2 separate regions of the Homo sapiens genome follow, and region 2 is linked to region 1. The links come from fine-mapping of genetic effects on gene expression. A gene starts in region 1. The other region holds a variant in brackets. All regions are shown on one strand. Distances are between the middles of the regions. Region 1 holds the start of ANXA1 (annexin A1). Region 2 overlaps LOC101927281 (a long non-coding RNA gene).

Region 1 (4,408 bases):
GGGGGTATGAGGAAGCTGTGGGGAGATTTTGGAATATCTGTGAAATGCTGTTCTTGATCATTCAGAATATACTCTTTCTTCCATATAACAAGTAATGCTTAGATAGAGTTAAATGTAAAGGATGAGGGGACAGCTTACTAAGATCAGATATTTTGCAAGAGTCTTATGCACAATGAGATGTATGTGAGAGACTCCATATTTCCTCTCCTTGTTTTGTTTTGTTTCCTCTTCACTATCAGATTCTAAACCAAATGAGTGAAAATAAACATGCTGTGAAAAACGTAACATATAGAGATTGATTTTAACTGTCTTTTTTCTTTCCTTCTCTTTCTTTATTTTCTCTGTTTGTAAAGTAAGTGGAGCCGATGAATCATCATCTTCTAGAAACAGCAAGAGTGGTGAGTCATTTCTCTGGAGTATGTGGCATTTCACCCACAGAAAGCATTTAACCCATGATTATCCCCTCACTGTTAATGATAACATATTTTACTTGTTCTTTTATTTCCATAAATCTACTCGACATTATTATTATGCGGAGAAAAAGATTCTGACAGATTATTCACAGCAATATACCTACATGATTAGTGGCTTTCTTTTTGTGTTATGTTTGGGAGTTTCACTTGCCTTTAGTGTTACAGCTGGAAGTTAATTTTGGAAAAACATTCTTTTCACTTTTTTTTTCTTAATTCTGCTACAATTATCATATTTATTGTTGCTATTTTAGGTTTGCCTATGTATTACAAATCCAAACATATAAAATAATTCCATTCAGTTTATGGCACTGGTAATAGCAGCAACAAAGCAAAATGAGACTATACATGTTTTCTAGGTTGTTATATTTTATAAAAAGTAAGTGGAATTTTTTCTTCATTTCACAAGAGCATCACTGTGCAGGAATGTTCCAATAGTTCCATTACCAGAGTTAGGAATACAAACGCAAATTAAAGAAAAAAAGAAAACCAGATTTTGTATAATCATCTTATTCCTTCTCACCTGATGACATAAATATGGTATTAGAAAGTTAGTCTACATCTGTCAAGATCAATTTGCAATAATATCAATTAACTTAACTTGTTAGCAGGTAACTAATTAATTTTCAACTTACACATATGATAGTAAAAACATATATTGACATTTTCTTAAATATTTAGATTAGATGATCATCCTACTTCAGGATATGTTGACTTCATTGATATTGGCATCGAGCACTTAGAATGTATTATAAAATACTGCCAATCTTTAGAAAGTATTTTCATTAACTTCCTAAACTTCATGTTTTTTATGTGAAATATCTATGAGGAAAAGAGGAAAAAGAACAAACCACTAAATGCAGCATAAATTGAGCCATAATGCTGTGAGATTTTACACCTGTGCACTTTAATGGAAACATCATATAATACTTTGTAGGGTTTAAAGAAGAATGAAAATGAACCACTATGGAAGTTACCAGAACCAATTTTCCTCCATTGGGTGGGAAATTTCTTATGGAATGTGTTCTGTAATAGTTGCTGCTCCATTAATCCTTTCATTTTATAGGTCTAGTTCCTTGTTTTGGTGTTCAACTAGTCTACAATGTCAAAGATGTGTATCAAAATGTATATATAACTGATCTATATTACAGTTTATATATATAGTTCTATGTAACTGACTCTATTTAAAAGAATTAATGTAGATAGGCCTTCTGATGTCAATGCTTTTATTGAATGTCATAATGATCAAATTTTTGGCATTACCTTTGTTCAAAATTTTGAGCCAATCTGGAACTTTATTACTTCTATATTTCTTATTTATAACAACAAGCTATATCTAGGAACAAAAGTCGTTTATTTTTTAAGGCAAGAAAAATATAAATAGAAAATTATTCGGCACTGTGTAATGTTAAAATTTACAAATATATGTTATTTCTCCATTGTCACAAGAATTCTAGTGGGTAGACAACTTAGATAATGCTCCTATATACAAAAGTAAAAACAGCTAGGCATGGTGGCTCACGCCTGTGATTCCAACTCTTAGGGAGACAGAGGCAGGAGGATAGCCTGAGCCCAGGAGTTTGAGACCTGCCTGGGCAATATAACGAGACCCCATTCTCCACAAAAAGCGGGGGAAAAAGACAACAAAACAAAAGTAAAAACAGGTTCAGAAAAATTAAGTATGTCCCTAAAGTCACAGAATAATAAGTGATGGAGGTGGAATTCAAATGTAATATTTTGTTTGTTGGTTTGTTTAGTTTTGAAGGTAACATACTTTTTAGTCTACAACCTATTTAACTACAAAAGTGTGCCAATCACTGGTATTAGGATTGGGGCAGATGTATACTCTGAAAATAAAAGTGCAAAATAAATATCCCATCTGGAAATAAAAGTGCAAAATAAAGAGGGAGGAAAAATCAGCCCTTCCATTTCTTTTCCTTTGTAATGCCAGTTGAATTGGTTTAGTGAGTAGTTTTGCAAGACTTGTTTCACTTTGTTTTTGGACATAGCTGAGCCATGTACTTCAAACAGAAGGCAGCCAATTACTAACTTCTGGTTGCTAGGTGTGGCTTCCTTTAAAATCCTATAAAATCAGAAGCCCAAGTCTCCACTGCCAGTGTGAAATCTTCAGAGAAGAATTTCTCTTTAGTTCTTTGCAAGAAGGTAGAGATAAAGGTAAGTCTTGGTTTTCCTTTTAGTTAGTTTTGGTTGTTTTGAAAACTTTTCTCATCACTATGTTAAATGTTACTGCTTCTACAGGATTTATGGTTAGTTGCATTTAACATGATAAGTCATTCATAAATCTTTCTGTAGAATTACATTGGATATTTATATTTTAGGAATCACAAATTACAATATTTTTGTTCTACTTAGTTAACAAATACAAGTAAAAATAAGATAAGTTTGCTTAATACTGGCTCATTGTACTCTTGGTAAGTTACCATGAGAAAGAAGGGAAGAATGTGCTTTCCCTCTGGTAGCCTTAAAAGAATGTGTTTTTCCTTTCCTTCCCCTTGAAATATTTCTTCCCAAGAGCTGTGTGTTTTACAGAGAAATCGTGATGGGGGCTGCTTTTTGGGGGCAAGAACAAAAGTGATAGGAGTGGGCTGCAGGGAACTGTTTCAAAATAGTAGGACTTTCATAATTTATTTTCTTCTTTTGTAAGGAAAACAAGATAGATTCAGACCTCAAAGTGCTAATCATGCTCTTTGTAATAAACATTTAAAAATATATGTTATATTTGCTTATGCTATTTAAAATAAGAAGGTCCGCTTATTACTTTTTTCATTTAAAGAGGGTGTGGCCACATTCCTTTTCTTGTAGGCTCTGTGTCATATACAGTCTTTTCAAGTGCTGGCTGGAAAACCTAAAAAGAAGGGAAATACTTTCTGGGTAGTGTCAGATACATTATCCTAGGGGAATGTCAGTGAGGCCCTCCAACAGCTATTCCACTTGATTGTTGCATGAGCTAATGGCCATAAAACTCCTTAGAAAAGCACAAAGCAAAACTAAAGAAGAGTATTTACTAGTGTTGGATATATTTGTAAAAGTGAGATTACAAATCATGTATCTGGCTATTTTTTTCTTAAACATGTTCCTTCAAGAATTTTTCTGTTCGTTCATTTTAAATATTTATTAAATGTTCTGATTTCTTATGTTCACTGCTAGCTAATTAACAAGGATGGAATTTTTCTTGCCTTGGTTATATCTAAAAGATTGTAAAAACTTTGAGAAAGCAATGTTGCCCTCTTTCCACAGGAGTATTTTGGTAGCTGTAAGAGAATGCACATTGCAAATGACTCAAATGTGGTAAAATGTTGGTTTCATAATTCTGAAATGGCCTCTTCCCCAAAAGTGACAGTAACACCCTAGCTCCAGGCTCAACCACATCCAGCACATAGCCAACATTTAACAGATGTTGACAAAATAGTTAATAATAATATTATTAAGGAACCAGCCAGAGTTTCATGCTTATTAAATACTTTTTCAACCAGAAGGTCTGCAAAGGTTGATTTCTGAATATGACGTTAGCTCTCTCTAGACCTATTAATTTACGACATTTCAAATCAGAGGTAAACCAGCAGACCTATTATTTTTCAATGATAAACTATAAACAGTTTTTTGAAGTCAACTATTTCCTTTTCCTTTAAAATTGGACAGAATTTCATCAGGAAGCTCAGAACAATCCAATTTATATAATGCCTTCCTTCATTATGCTAATTTTCTTCATCTTCATCTACTTGAAGTAATATTTAAGATTGGCACTTCAGAGCTGTAAATGGATCTTAGATGATAATTACTTCAACATTCTTATTTTATAAACGAAGACCCTCTGGAGAAGCTAAATGTTTTTCTTGAGGTCAGATCGCCAGATAATCAAGAACCAGTATACTTCAATTTGTATTTTATATCCTATAGTTGTGGGTAGAAAATGTTCA
Region 2 (4,408 bases), 130 kb after region 1:
GTGTTGTGAGTATTTTGCCAAACATGCTGAGTGGTTTAGATTTAAGCATCAGGTTGGGAGAAGCTTTGGGATCTCCTTGAAGATAATGATATCTGCTGTTTGGTGCTTTTAATATCAGTAATACATAGTTGAACATAATCACAATTAACGACATAAATGTGGCAAGGAAGGTTGAGATGTTAAGGCTAAACACAAATGTGAAGCAAAGAGCTGAGATAATTATCTAGGATGGCAATCCAGATCATGCAATACTTTCGATTAGAATATGCAGATGATATGCAAATAATTGAGGTCAAAATTTTATTTAACACTGGGCAAAATAGAATGAAAATCAATCCATTGAATTTTGTTCACACAGAGGTGGGACATTTATTTTCATGACCTAAAATGTACCAATACTTTATGTTACATAGAAAAAGTCAGACTAGAAACTGGGTATCAACTTACTAACAGCAAAGTAACTACACACGCTGTTAATATTGACTCTGTCTCAACAATAATTTAAACTGCAGTACTTAGGTTCCATCGTGTTTTACAAAACTCATGTCATTTAATTCTCACAGTGAACCAAGGGAAGATAATGTTATTAACTCAATTTCATAGGTGAACAAATGGCGGCGGCATCTAAAAGTTAGAGATTCACCCAAGATTGGTCAGCTGGTGAGTGGGTGGAACCAAAGTTTGCACTCAAGTCTACCTACTTCTAAAGACTAGGCTTTTGGTACTCAACTGCATGGCTATTAGCACTAAGTTTGCAGAATGACTAGTAGGGTTTGTTGAATGGGTTGTTTAAATAGAATAAAATATAAGTTAAAAAATTGACTAACTCTTAGATGAGACACAAGGGCATTAGATTTCAGAAGTGCATGAAGAAATTTTCTGCTTAGCAATATCTATGCAATGGTGAAAACCCACTTAAAGTCTTCACTGTCTGTTTATTTGGCTAAACTGACTGATGGCAGGGTGTCTACTTTGTACTGTGTTCCTTCAGCCTGGCTCCCTATTTTTTGGTGTGTTAGTATAGTTTGTTTTCAGCTGAAGTTATTAATTGGGGCAAAATATTAACATGCTTGGGAATGTTGCATATGGATTAGGTCAACCTGTTGTTATTCTGACTTAATTTTCTATTATTGATCAGCTATACATTAATTTGTTTTTAAGAAATATTCATTGAGGTAAAACAGTCCATATTTAAGATGAAGAAGAATTTAAAGGAGAAGGGTTATGTGATGATAATTAGCCTGATACTTTAGGCATAACAATTTTAAATTTTGTTTATATTTAGGCTTATTGATAGTTATTAGGTTGGACAATCATATATCAAATGGATTATTTAAATATTTTAATATATAATAATCACACTGTGATTTACCATGTACTTTTCAGTTAAGAGATGTATAGGTACAGTGTTTTACTTGATTTTCAAAATAGTCTTGTGGGTTATGACATTTTTATCATTTTCACTTTACAAATGAAGAAATAAAGACATACAAAAATAAGTGATCAGATTAACTATAGCAGTAAAACAGATACCTGAAGTAAAACCTGGGTAAAAGAACAAAACATTGAGACAGGAGGGATTATACAAATATTAGAGTGAAACACTGAAATATTTTAATTATTCTACTTTACCTTTTATGTGAAATTATAACAACTAGTATGTTTGGAGTGGGCAAATCTAAGCATTCTCAACTCTTAAGGAGGCAAAATTTAGAGAAAGTCAACAATCCTGATAAGGGGCAAAAAAAAAAAATTAAAAAAAGATACTGACAGGTTGAAACTGATGTAAAATTTTTATGTAACTCAAACGTTTCTAGGGCTAATTTCTACAATTTCAAGTACTCAAAGAGAATTTTAAAATTGAGTAGGATTATAATCAGATTTTCTAACCTTAAAAGAGATACTTATTTTCAGTCTAAAATATTTACTCATACATTACTAATCAGTTATATATCAGTGAGCAACAGATCTCTGGAAGACTCTAGGTTTGTGGTCAATAACATTGAATTTAAGAAATCTCCCTCTCTCTCAAAATAGCATAATCTCCATGTTTGTTAATTAATGGAAGGTGATACTGAAGCGTTGTCTATATCTGATATTGGAAGGTGTTAGGATTCTGAAACTGTACTTGTAGCAATGTAGCCAGGCAGTTCAGGCAGATAACATACTGATTGTTTAACCTTTTGCATAGAGAATTAATTATAGCTTGACTTTGCTCATGTTTTGTTCTGGTTGTTTTAACACTGTGTAGCTTCTAATTGCCTTTTTAGAAGCATTCTATAAGAGAAGCAAAATTAATCTCACTGGCTAATAATTCATTTAGCCAGAAGTTAACAAAAATGTATTGATTACTTCCTATGCACCAGAAACTGTTAGAATCTGGACAAAACGTGGGCAAAAATGGACATACTCTCTGTTTTCATAAAATTTAATGTCAAGTGTAAAAGACAGATATTAATCAAGTAATGTGTAACAAATAATATGAAACTACTTTCTTAAAAGTCATGAAAGAGAGGTATATTGTAGTCTGTAACTATGAGAACATATGATTCAGGAAACTAAATTCGTCTGGAGAGTCTG[A/G]TAATGTTTCCTTGCAAAATCAATGAATAAATGAAGAGTGAATATAAGTTAGGTAAAAAGTGAAGGAAAGAGCAGCTGTACAATGGGTACAGTCCATGCAAAAGTCTCATCACAGGAAGAAGCAAGGCATACACAGTGATTGGGGAGGAGAAAGTGAGGAAGAGTATGGTGGATTATGAGACTAGAAAAATGGGTTGGTAACCAACCCTGTAGGAATTTGGCTTATTAATCCCAAATGGTCATTTCTTCATATGTATATATATTCAATACATTGAGAACTTATTATACACAATAGATTTGCTATGAATGATGGTTAATTTAATGGGTCCAGTTGGCTTTGTATGGTGCCCAGATGTTTGGTCAAACATGCTTGTAGATGTTTCTATGAAGGTGTTTTCTTGGATGGGATTAACATTTAAGTTGATGGGCTTTGAGTAAAGCAGATTACCTTCCATAATGTGGCTGCACCTCCTTCCATCAGGTGAAGGACTTAATAGAACAAAGACCATCCTCCACTCATCAAGAAAGACTTATGCCAGGAGACTGCCTCTGAACTCAAACAGTGAGTTTCCCGTGGTCTGTAGCCTGCCAGTCTACTTTGTAAGTTTTGAATTTACCAAGTCTTCAAAGTCATGTGAGCCAATTTTTAAAAGTTACTCTTTCTCTCAGTGTTTCTCTCTGTTCCTCTAGATAGGTAGATAGACAGATAGATAGATAGATAGATAGATAGATAGATAGATAAGAACAGATAGAGAGAGAGAGAGATGATAGAGAGAGAGATCGATCCCATTGGTTCTATTTCTCTAGAGAACCCTAACTAATACACTAGGTTATTATAATGATGGAGGACATACCTATTTGGATACTTAAGGCAGAGTTTAAAACTAATAAGCAGGTAAGAAATACAGTGTGGTAATATGAAACTAAGACAAATAAGTGAGCTAGACAAATCACAGTAAGAGCTATAAGAATGAGAGCATCTGGTGGGCCACAGTGCCTAGGCAGGCTCAAGGAGTTGGTAGGACTTGACAGATGGGACAGGGGAGGGTAGCCCGGTTATGGTATGCAGTAGAGTAGAGGGAGAAGTAAGTGTGGGATGTTTGCAAGCCTCTGAGCAGAACAGCCTGGATAAAGTAGAGTCTTCTGTTAATAAGCCCTCAAGCCTGGCATTCATCCCTCCCTCAAGAGGAGTATCAGAACCCAGAGCTATCTTGTTTTTAGAAGGAAGACACTGTGTGGAGGGAAACTGGATGTGTGGCAACCTCACAGGAAAGGCAAGTTGATAAGATTTTCTTTATGAATTATTCAGAAACAGAAAATTAAGTAACGAGTCCTGTATGATAGTCTAGTTCTATCTGGATTGTTTTCACCTCACAGGGGGATACAAAATAAGATGAGTAGAGCAAAAAGAAAGTAAAATAACCAGTCAGCCAAATATAGCGAGAGAAACAGTGCCTTGGACTCACAGCATGTGGACTCAATGAGAGACGTGCTCCTGAGGGAGCGGTAAAGCAAGCCTTCTGTTCACTGGTGATGCGAACCTACGAGCGCGAACTGCATTGCCAGAGTCCTTTACTGCTCTTTATGCAACTAGGTTAATCCTTTTTGTTGCTTCTTTCTTTCTTTCCGGAAAAGAACTCAGAGAGGATTTTACTGTAGGTAATGTCTGGGAACAGTTCTTTCTTTTATGTGCACTGTGGTGCTTGCTGCTATAAAGCCAGTGACTTAGCCAACTTTGAAGTCATCAGTTCTGATTTGTCACTCAGTAGGTTCAGTTTATGGGGGCAAAGAACCAAGCCATCCCATTCTGGGGAGGTATAGGATGCAT

The links.
Region 2: its variant is fine-mapped to the expression of ANXA1 in whole blood (INTERVAL, PIP 0.98).

Annotation. Positions count from the first base shown.
Region 1 is chr9:73,149,280-73,153,687 of GRCh38, forward strand. ANXA1 (annexin A1) reads left to right here and starts at 2,586. Exons shown (of 13, transcript NM_000700.3): 1 at 2,586-2,645. RefSeq lists a cis regulatory region at 294-544.
Region 2 is chr9:73,280,476-73,284,883 of GRCh38, forward strand. The region is part of intron 1 of LOC101927281 (a long non-coding RNA gene); the gene reads left to right. Among named protein-coding and RNA genes, the nearest start is that of ANXA1, 130 kb to the left of the region's middle. The variant A/G (reference allele first, on the strand shown) is at 2,581.